Linked DNA regions of Homo sapiens: all the other regions are reported to be linked to region 3. Evidence: microRNA targets listed by miRTarBase, many of them from high-throughput screens and not tested one by one. Region 3 holds a microRNA gene; each other region holds the end of a gene's coding sequence.

The links. Region 3 holds the annotated microRNA hsa-miR-4693-5p (AUACUGUGAAUUUCACUGUCACA, at 2,410-2,432, opposite strand). A microRNA usually pairs through its seed, bases 2 to 8, with sites in the 3' UTR of a target mRNA and lowers its output. Matches are read on the target gene's strand: a 7mer-m8 pairs with bases 2 to 8, a 7mer-A1 pairs with bases 2 to 7 and ends in A, and an 8mer does both.
Region 1: miRTarBase lists CLASP1 as a target of hsa-miR-4693-5p. Seed matches in the 3' UTR shown: 7mer-A1 at 767-773.
Region 2: the mRNA of REST is a reported target of hsa-miR-4693-5p. Seed matches in the 3' UTR shown: 7mer-A1 at 1,971-1,977.

Annotation. Positions count from the first base shown.
Region 1 is chr2:121,338,420-121,341,419 of GRCh38, forward strand. CLASP1 (cytoplasmic linker associated protein 1) reads right to left here. Exons shown (of 41, transcript NM_001395891.1): 41 at 1-2,528. The coding sequence ends at 2,442. Among named protein-coding and RNA genes, the nearest start is that of TFCP2L1, 55 kb to the left of the region's middle.
Region 2 is chr4:56,931,837-56,934,836 of GRCh38, reverse strand. It overlaps REST (RE1 silencing transcription factor), which reads right to left. Exons shown (of 4, transcript NM_005612.5): 4 at 1-3,000. The coding sequence ends at 2,685. Among named protein-coding and RNA genes, the nearest start is that of REST, 25 kb to the right of the region's middle.
Region 3 is chr11:103,848,782-103,852,346 of GRCh38, reverse strand. It overlaps MIR4693 (microRNA 4693), which reads right to left and starts at 2,441; the gene lies at 2,367-2,441. LOC102723862 (a long non-coding RNA gene) reads left to right here and starts at 2,796. Exons shown (of 4, transcript XR_001748346.2): 1 at 2,796-2,933.

The DNA.
Region 1 (3,000 bases), not on the chromosome of region 3:
GGGTCTTGGGCCCTGGCCAGTCCGGTAGACAGGGAGGCAGAGACAGGCTTAGGTGCTCTGCTCTTTTGTGTTCTGTTTTTCATTGGAACAGGGGCCCTGCAGGGAGGCGGCGGCAAGGCAAGGCAGCTGCAGCTGTCAGGGTCTAGGGGGCGACGGTGGGCTCGGCGCCCTCCCAGTGAGGTGGTGGCGGCATGCGAGTCTCCTCGGCGCGGCGGCAGCAGTTTTCAGATTGAGGCCAAGAGACCTGTGACGTGATTGTATCTCTAAGTCAGGAGACTGAAGACTGGGCGAGTGACATTCAAGGCTAGCCCTTTGTGAGTACTATGAGGACGTCCAGCAATGTTCGAGATCCTTTCTAAGTACACTGGGGACTGGGGTACCTTCTGGGAGTCAAAGAGCTCAAGGAGAAAGGTCTTTCTAACTGCATTAGGAATAAAGAAACTCATGGATAACCTAGCCCGACGCACATTCCTGCAACAAAGGGGTCAACAAGAGACTCCCTAATTCACTTGTAGAGTGTAAAAAAGAAATACCATTAATGACATATTAATAAACAAACAGTACTTATCAACAAAAGACCTGGTCCTGCTATATTTTGAGCCAAAGCTCGTCAGTAATACCCAACCCCTTGAAACGCGTCCCTCAAGTTCCCTAAACAGCAGCAGTGAGGTACCACACATGTGTAGGGTGCACGCACAAACACACACAACACCACACACACACACACACACACACACACACACACACACACGTCAGCACCCTGGCTTTACTGTTCCTATGCACTATGGGGCCTTCATTTTCAGCCCATGTTTCCAAATCAACATCAGTCTTTCCCAGCTTCCTGCATCCAATGCAGAGGGTCAGGGCAGAGGGGTCTGTGGAAATGATGTTAAGAATCACGTGCTCTGGCACCCAGCCTCTGCTTTCAGTCCTAGCAGTTGCAGTGGGCTCTGCACTGCAATAGCAAATACGTTATTAGAATTAATCTCAAAAGAAGCATTTTCCTTATGGAAAAATCAGTTCAATTTATAGGATCTAATACAACAGTAAGAGACAATAGAAGTCCTCATGATTGCATTAAGAATTTCCATTTGGCTTAAGAATTTTACTCAGAATTTATTTAACCAGACTCCAAACCTCTAGTTACTTTTATTGGAGTAATTAGGCTCTAAAGGTGTTTTTAAAAAGGGGGCCTAGTGGTTCGCTGAGGAGGAAGAGAGACTCTAAATGTGTGTTCTTTTTAAGTGTGTTTCTAATCCTGTTTTTCTGCAATCTGCTACACCTCATAATTACTTTTTTCCTTAAACAGTGACTATTTCATCAACAGACATTCAAGGAACTACTTCAGTTTATAAAATTAAAAAAAATTGTGATATCCAGTCTCTCTAGGCTTTTCTTGGCTCTTAATCCCACATTAAACTGAGAAGTCAGAACTAAGATGGTAAAGATGCCATTTACCAGATTAACTGAGACCATGTTAGAACTGAACGGCTTAGGCAGAACTTTGAGGGGAGGAAACAAGTTGGTGCTCAATCTGAATCACCGTGTAGCCCAGAGATGAGGGTCTTGGCAGAGCCCCCATGACAACAGTGTTCCCAAGGATCTCAGCAGTAAAGATGAAAGACTTCTTCTTTATCTTCTGTGCTTCATGAACTGCCATCTCAGGCATCCCTAAATGATGCCATACATTTATCTTATTTTTGTGTCCAGATTTAAACTTGAAGAATTCCTTTGCATGGAAGCTCTGGGGTAGGGACCTTGTCGGTGGAGTCGATTAGGGAGAGCTGGAAGGAGACTGTCAGGGTGCACTCCCAATTCTACGCTGAAAGCCAGGGCAGTCGGCCTCCAGTCTGGATATGACAAGCAAAATTCCCAGCGTTTGTTAAAAGGCCATCTTCAGACTGTTCTTGCCAAGACTTGATTCCCATTTTTAGTAGGTCTCAGAACACAACTTAAAGATATATCACCTTTCGTGGTGTCAGCTGTGAAAGGGGCCCCACACAGACCATACGCACAAGAAAATAGGCTAAGGAGGAAGAACACAAAGTAACACCCCACCCCACCCCCAAATATGTTATTAACTGAAAAAAAAAATGCTACTTTCTACCAAGTAGTGGCTAGAGCGCTCTGATTTTTAAAAACTGCACCCCACACACAGGGTTTCGCCATCTCAGCAGGCTGTACAAGACATGTTTCAGTATGGCTCTTTTCTGTTCTTATTCCTTTTGTTTTGTATGAAGACTGCAATACAGGCCTTGCTTCCTTTACATTCAATACCAGTAAGATTCTACAGAAAAGCTGGAAGGGACCAAAATACTGATTGTAATAAATATTTGTGGGCCTCCTTGTACTGACTGGGCAGCCGATGAAGGGGGTGGGGAAAGGTCTCTGAGAGGCACCACCGATTGCTTCTAGGTCTACACAAGAGACAGGTACTGCCATTAGCTGTGCGTGGAGACATCGGAGGAGGAGCTGCTGTTGCTGTTGGTGGTCTGGGCCCTCTTTATGTATAAGTTTAGTAGCTTCATCTGAAAAGAGAAGATGAAACTGAATTAGCAGGAAGAAAAGCAATCAGAAAGTAGAAAACAGCAAAAAGAATCCCAGGTGACAGTAAGGAAACAGCAAGTCCCTTAGTTCCCTTGGTTGAGGAATTCATTATAAAAACATGTTCTGAGTGCCTGCTGCCCATCCAATGCATCTGCCAGGTGCTAGGGCCACAGAGGGAGGGAGGAGGCCAGAGTCCAGAGGAGAGGGAAAAGCCGTGGGCAATTACAAGACCACCACCAGGTGTCACAACTAGGTGGGCCGCAGCAGCTCATGGAGGAAGGGATACGGGGGCAGGGCCATTCATCTCAAGCACGACTGCAGCCCAAAGGCTCCATCAGAGCCAGGGAAAAAGCAGGGTGAGAACCCCGCTCCACAGGGGGGAAGTGGCTGGGCCAAGGTCAGAGGGCAAATCCTCTAACCTTCACACCTTTAGCCTCTTGAGTAGCTGGGACT
Region 2 (3,000 bases), not on the chromosome of region 3:
ATATATGCTAGTATTTCAAGTTTATCACTAATTACTAAACATCAATTTACAAATAACATGTTCAATTTTTGTTCTTTTATCCAAAGGGAAAATTCTAGGCTAAATTCTATCCAGTGTGGGGGAGGGGGACTAGAAAATAAAAAAGTTTCAAACAGTTCCATGCAAACATCACATTTTTCAAATGGAAAAACTTCCAACTGGACCAGAAGTTCATACTGCTAATGTACTTTTCATTGAAACAATTTTTAGTAAGTACAAATACATGGCATTAAGGTTCAGAACCTAATATAGGCCTGACAATCAAGTCCTTATTTTCTGGAGGAAGGCCTCAAGTCCAATAAATTTCCAGTAACAATGTTTTTACAAATCAATTTAATAATAAGGGGTTTTAATTTCCTTCATGTTTTTGTTTTTAGCATTCTAGTCTTAAGACTAGATTAGAAGTTAGCTCAATTCCCCAAAAGGCAAATGGTTTTTCTTTGCAGTATGAAAGAATCCACAAAAAAACCTCTTCCCCAAACTAATTCCTAATAACCAATCTGTGCTTAAGATGTATCTTTTTCTATACAATGTAAACGGTAACTTAGGTAAAATGTACCCATGAACATTAAAACTAGTCATTAGAAAGACTTAACTAGCTTTATAATTTAAGTTTTAAAACATAAATATTTGCAGCTTGATCTTCTGTTGACAATGATTGTCGGAGCCTAGAATTCAACATTTACAATGTCCATTCATGCACACAAAACACATACCATTATCACACAACTTACTCCTCATGTCTTAAGAGAAGAATCTTCCGCTTCTTTAAATCTTTGGCCTCCCAGTCAATGCCATGTTCAAACAACTTTTAACTCAAACTTCACTCTCAGATTTTTAACAAGCTTTCCACCCACACGTTATTAATGCTTTTCCTAATCTTTCATGTTGTACTGCCAAATCTGAAACCTGCCTCAAAGAGATCATCAGATTTTTAAAAAATGAAATATAAAGTGGTTATTTCAAAACGGAGTATGGGAGGTCAGAATTCAAGATTCCCTAATGGGATCATATTTTATTTTACTGCAATGAATGACTGCTATCAGTAAGAAAAATCCTCTATTGGATTCTTTCACACTCTTTGGCAACTGGCCAAAGAACCTACAAAAATGTTTTGGAGTACATGCCCTTTTTCATACAAAGTGCCCTCATAGGAACACCAGGATAGCTGCAATTCATTTGAGGCCTCACCTATAGAAAGAGGCTATCACACAGACAGCCAGGACACCCACCAGTTTGTGGAGATCCCTGAGAAAGTATGATTTTAAAAAATCTGGACTGTACTTGTTTCACCAGCCTTTTTCACTGTATAGGAAAGTTGCAGCTGGTCTACCAGCACTCATACTACCTTTCTTATCCTAGGTTTGCCGCGTAATAGCTATGGCTTTGGAATCTCCCAAGTGATATTCTATAAAACTTGAAGGAATAATTATATCTCCTAATTCCAGGTTTGTAGTTTCCAAATATCACTTACAGTTCTCTTTATTGTAAAGTAGCCATATGAACACCAACCATCTATGAGAAAAGGTTCTCCTCAAACATTTAACACTCTACAATTAGGAATTAGCTGTACCAAAACACATGAAAAAAAAAACTGATGGTTGGTATTTGAGATAAAAATTTGTTCGACATGCAACCTAGTGGTTTATTTATTGCAAAATCAAAACTGATAGCTGTGAATTTACTACATCCATTCGAAATAAATAAGTTATATGAAATACAGATTCTGGCATAGATATAAGATGTAAAAATCAAAATCAATAGATTGAACCTGCATATTTCATTTGCTCACAAACTTGCACACACTATTATTCTGCAAAATAGACAACTGCAGCAAAGAAAAAGAAAACTGCCCTTTTGCAAACAAGTCTAAAAGCATCCCTCCAAAGACGCCAAACAAAATAAACATGCATATATATATGTATAAAGTGTTACTGTTCAACACAAATGCTATTTCTAGGAAAAATTTAACTGCATAGGCAAAAAAACATAAACAGAAACCAAAAGAAAAAAAAAATGTGCAACATCTTAAGCCATTAAAGCACCAAAATAAAAAACACACCAAAATCACTGTTTTTATGACGATTAACATACACAAATAAAAAATATTGATCAAAACTCAGGAAGTAAATACTTGGACTGATAGACTGTCTATTGCTGGGGGAATTTTTCTTCAATTTAAATGTCTTCTCATCTCTAAAAAAAAAAATCTTAAAGTGCTAACTTTATATAAAGCAGGCAAATTCTTCAAGTAATTTGCTATTAAGTAAGCCAATTTTTTATAGATCTCAATAAAAAACGAAGAATAAACTAAAGTGAAACAGGAAGATAAGACATGGAGAAAAAAATGACAAGTTGTAGCTGGACAAAGCAATAAAATGCTGTTATACCATCTTAGCCTTCTAATTTCAATTAAACACATAAGCTAACAGATACCTGCTGGTTTAGTACACTCTCTTAGATTTACTAAAATTTACACAACAATCAACAGGTATACATAAAAAGTCCTAAGGAAAAGAATGCCACTTAAAAATCAACATCAGATACTAATTAAAGCAATCTTAAAAGGTTGTCTGCTATCATAAATGAATATAAAATGTAATATACCTTACAAACTAAGAACTGAAACCTTGTTCAAAGTTTCATTACTCCTGCCCTTGAGCTGCTTCTTCAAGATAGTACACATTAACCAAATGGCGATTGAGGTGTTTGCTGTAATCTTTTCCCTTTCTGAAAGAACGATCACAGAAGATACAAACAAAATCTCCCTTAGCCGCTTTGACTGCCAAGGCTTCCTTTGCATTTTTTCTGCTAGATTCTTGTGGAACTGGCCGAGCCCCATGCAATCCAGAATCATCACTACCCTCTGACATGTTGTCACTTAGGTCACTTCCTTCATGGCTGTGGATGCCTTCATCTTCATCAATTTCCTGAGACTCATTTGCTGCCATTGTAGCAGGA
Region 3 (3,565 bases):
CCCAGTCAGTCACTGGTCTGAGGCATACTCAGAAGCTTTCTCTTATTGTTGGATCATTTATCCATAGCCTTTCTTCAGTGTCCACAAGTTCTTAGTGACCATCATGTTTACACTAATGTTCCATTTCTTTCTTCTGTAGGGAGTACTTAAAGACAGAGATGATGTTTTGCAAAATAATCATTTAGTTCTATAAGTAGATCAACAAGTCATAAATGCTTGTTGAAGTTCAAGGGTAGATATTTGAATTTTCCATGGTAGGAGTAAATCATGTACCTCATTAGAATCAAGAACATGGTTGTTTTGTTCCCTACATGCTGTCTTCTTGTTCTACCAGTTTATGATAATTTTGTTTTGTTTTGTTTGTTTTTGTGTAAAGTGATGTCAAAAGAAGCTATCATGATTTCTCTTTGCTATCAAGTTAAAAGGAGAAGGGTTCAAGGCTTCTGATGAGAAAATCACATCAGCCAGAGAAACTGACAGTAATCGGAACAACTCCTTTCTCAAGTAAAAAAAGCCTTAGATTTTAAAAAGAAAAAGAAATGAGAAAGAATGTATGTAAGTAGACAAAGATAATGAAACCTTTCTCAGCTGTCTCTAACTCATGGACACGTCAAGAAATTAAGAGACATTTCATGATGAGCTGGAGTATTAGGACTATATTTGCTGAATTTATTTTTTCATGGTTCAATGATGAAACAGTAAATTCCACAAATAGATTTCAAGTTTGGTCAAGCATTTTGGCTTTTGAACATTAATCTCCTGAGCAGTGAGCTCTGTACATGCCTGGGAAGGTTCAACACAACAATGACATGTGACAGCCAAACATCCAAGCACTGAGCAATTTAGATTCTCATATCACCAAATGGGATTTTGTGGGTGGAGGAGAAGGAAGGACCCGAAGTTATTTTGCTGTTATTCTGTTACAGCTCTTTCTTCTCTGTGTTGATGCTGCCAAAAGCTATGCTGGCAGCACACTGGATTTTCAGTGTTTATATTAACTCGTCTTAATCAAGGAATCCTGACTTAACCTTATTCTTTCTCACAGACACAGTTCAATGCTGCAATGGAGCCTGTGGTGAGCACTGATTCAATAGGTGGTTTGCCTCCTTAGACGCAGAATCACAGGACTAGAAGGAGTGAAAACAACACTTTATCTCTACATTGGCTTCAGGGAGGACAGTGCCCAAACCACCTCAAGTACAGAATAATTTACTCTCATTTAGAAGATCTCCAGACAGAGCTCGAATGGCTCCCTTGGCAACAAATTTTAGTTTTAACAATCTTTGTAGCTTTATCCTTCCCTCCAGATAATGCCATAACTGTGTACTCTAGATTAAACGTTTTCTCCTTTTCTGCCCACAGTGCTTTTGAAGCCAAACATGATTTCACATATAGTGTTGGGTCATCATTAAGTCACCTTTCAGAAGTCCCTCTAAATTAAGGAGTCCTCATCCTTTCCTTAAATTTTTCATGTGTCCTGACCTATGAGAATCTGTTATACGCATGTTTAATTTCTATGGAATACCTCATCATACAACTTGAAATTCTGATTGACTAGTGGTTTTTTTCCTGCATAAGTGCTACTTCATCTATGCCTCAGTAACAAACAACAACAATCACTTAATGGAAATGGTGGCAGGCAGAATTCTAAGATAGCTGCCAGATTCCTGCCGCCCCTGGTGTGCATTCCTTGATAATCACTCTCCTTTGAGTGCAGGCAGACCTGTGTGTATGATACCACTGCTATGATTACATTGCTCATCAGGCGACTGTGAGCTAGCCAAAATGGAGAATATTCTGGTGGGTCTGACCTAGCCAGGTGAGCCCGTTTCTGAGTCATAGAGATTGAAAGTGTGAGAGGGATTTGATGTGAGGGGGAATTCTCTGTTGCTGGTTTTGAGTATAAAAGGGGCCATATAATAAAGACTTGAGAGTGGTCACTAGTTGCTGAGATCCATCCCTAATTGAAGCTAGCAAGAAACACTTCTACCAACAACTTGAAGGAATTTGGAAAAGAATCCTTCCCTAGTCAAGTCTCTAGAGGGGAATGCAGCTAACTGACACCTTGATTTCAGCCTCGTGAGACCCTGAACAGAGATATCAACCACTCAGTTGCCTGGACCTCTGACAGAAATGAAAGATAATAAATGTCTGTTGTTTTAAGCCACTAAGTTTATGGAAATTTGTTACACAGCAATGGAAAACCAATATAGGCCCCTATCCATGAGTTACATTGTAGTAAACACCTTTCCTACATTATAGATATCTCATCTAACTCCTACAGCAACCCTTGAGGTAATCACTGTGTCCATTGTCAGAGCAAGAAAACTGAAGCTCGGCTTCATAAACAGAAGCAGCAAGGATTGATTCCTTAAATACTGTGAATTCCACTCTCACTTTATTTGAATTTGTGACAGTGAAATTCACAGTATTCTTTAAACATTTTACCCCCAAGCGATGCTCTTTCCTCTGAATTGCTTTGCCTGTCCTAATAATTTTATTTATACAGGCTGATGCTGGTGACTTGGGAATAGTATTTTTATCCAAACCATTTGGCTTCTTATAGGTATGAGCCACTGAGGGAGCTATTTTTTATTTAATTGTGCTTTGGAAAAATCAAACGTAGCCTTGAGTTTTAAAATTATTAAGCTTACACTTTTTCACAAAATAGAAATGGAGTAATATAGCTCTGTCCTTCCGTTTTTTAAAGCCAAAAAATGTAAGAATGGAATGTACTGGCTCACTGCTCCCACGGTGTCCTTACCAGCACAACTTACCCCATCCCTCCCTAGCCCACTCTTGAGGATACTTTCTTGCCACTGTCAGGCTTACTCCTGCCTCCTAGACTGAGGAAAGAAAAGCCTCCTGGTTTGGAGCTCATAATCAAGTCAGCCTTGCTGCAGGGCTCATTTTAAGCCAGTATCCTGGACCAGGTGAGTCTTTTTATTCATCTCTGCTTTGTATCCAAGTTCCATTTATCAGGTTACTAACTGGCCCCATCATGCATTCCTTCAGTAATTACTTTATTTTTAGCACTGCCAAGAAAGCAAGTCTTTTCCTACAAAAACACAGGATTTCCAGTGGGGTTAAATAAATGTGCCTATGTTCTCACTTGAGACAGCAAAAAGGGAAGGAGCGAAAATTGTGGAAAGAATTGAAGACAGAGGGTAGAGGGTAGGGTGCCAAGTGTGGGGGAAAACTGAATTATGAATATTAAGGAAAAATGAAAAATAATATTAAACTGAAATGGAGAGAAATAATATAAGTGAGAATAGAAAAACATAAAACAACCTTCCCCAAAACAAAGGATAAAGAAAAAAGAATTCAGGGGAAGCTGTAAATATCTAAGACATAGCAGCAAGGGCCTGGGAATACTTATAGTGTTTGAAGTTCTGAGCTTTATTTCGCTGCAGTGAGGATCTTAAAGATGCTTAAACATATGAATAAGCAACAAAGTAATGTGACCGTTCAGCTACAGGAAAGGGGTCCCAATCCAGGATCCAGACCCCAAGAGAAGGTTCTTGGATCTCTCACAAGAAAGAGTTCAGGGCGAGTCCATAGAGTA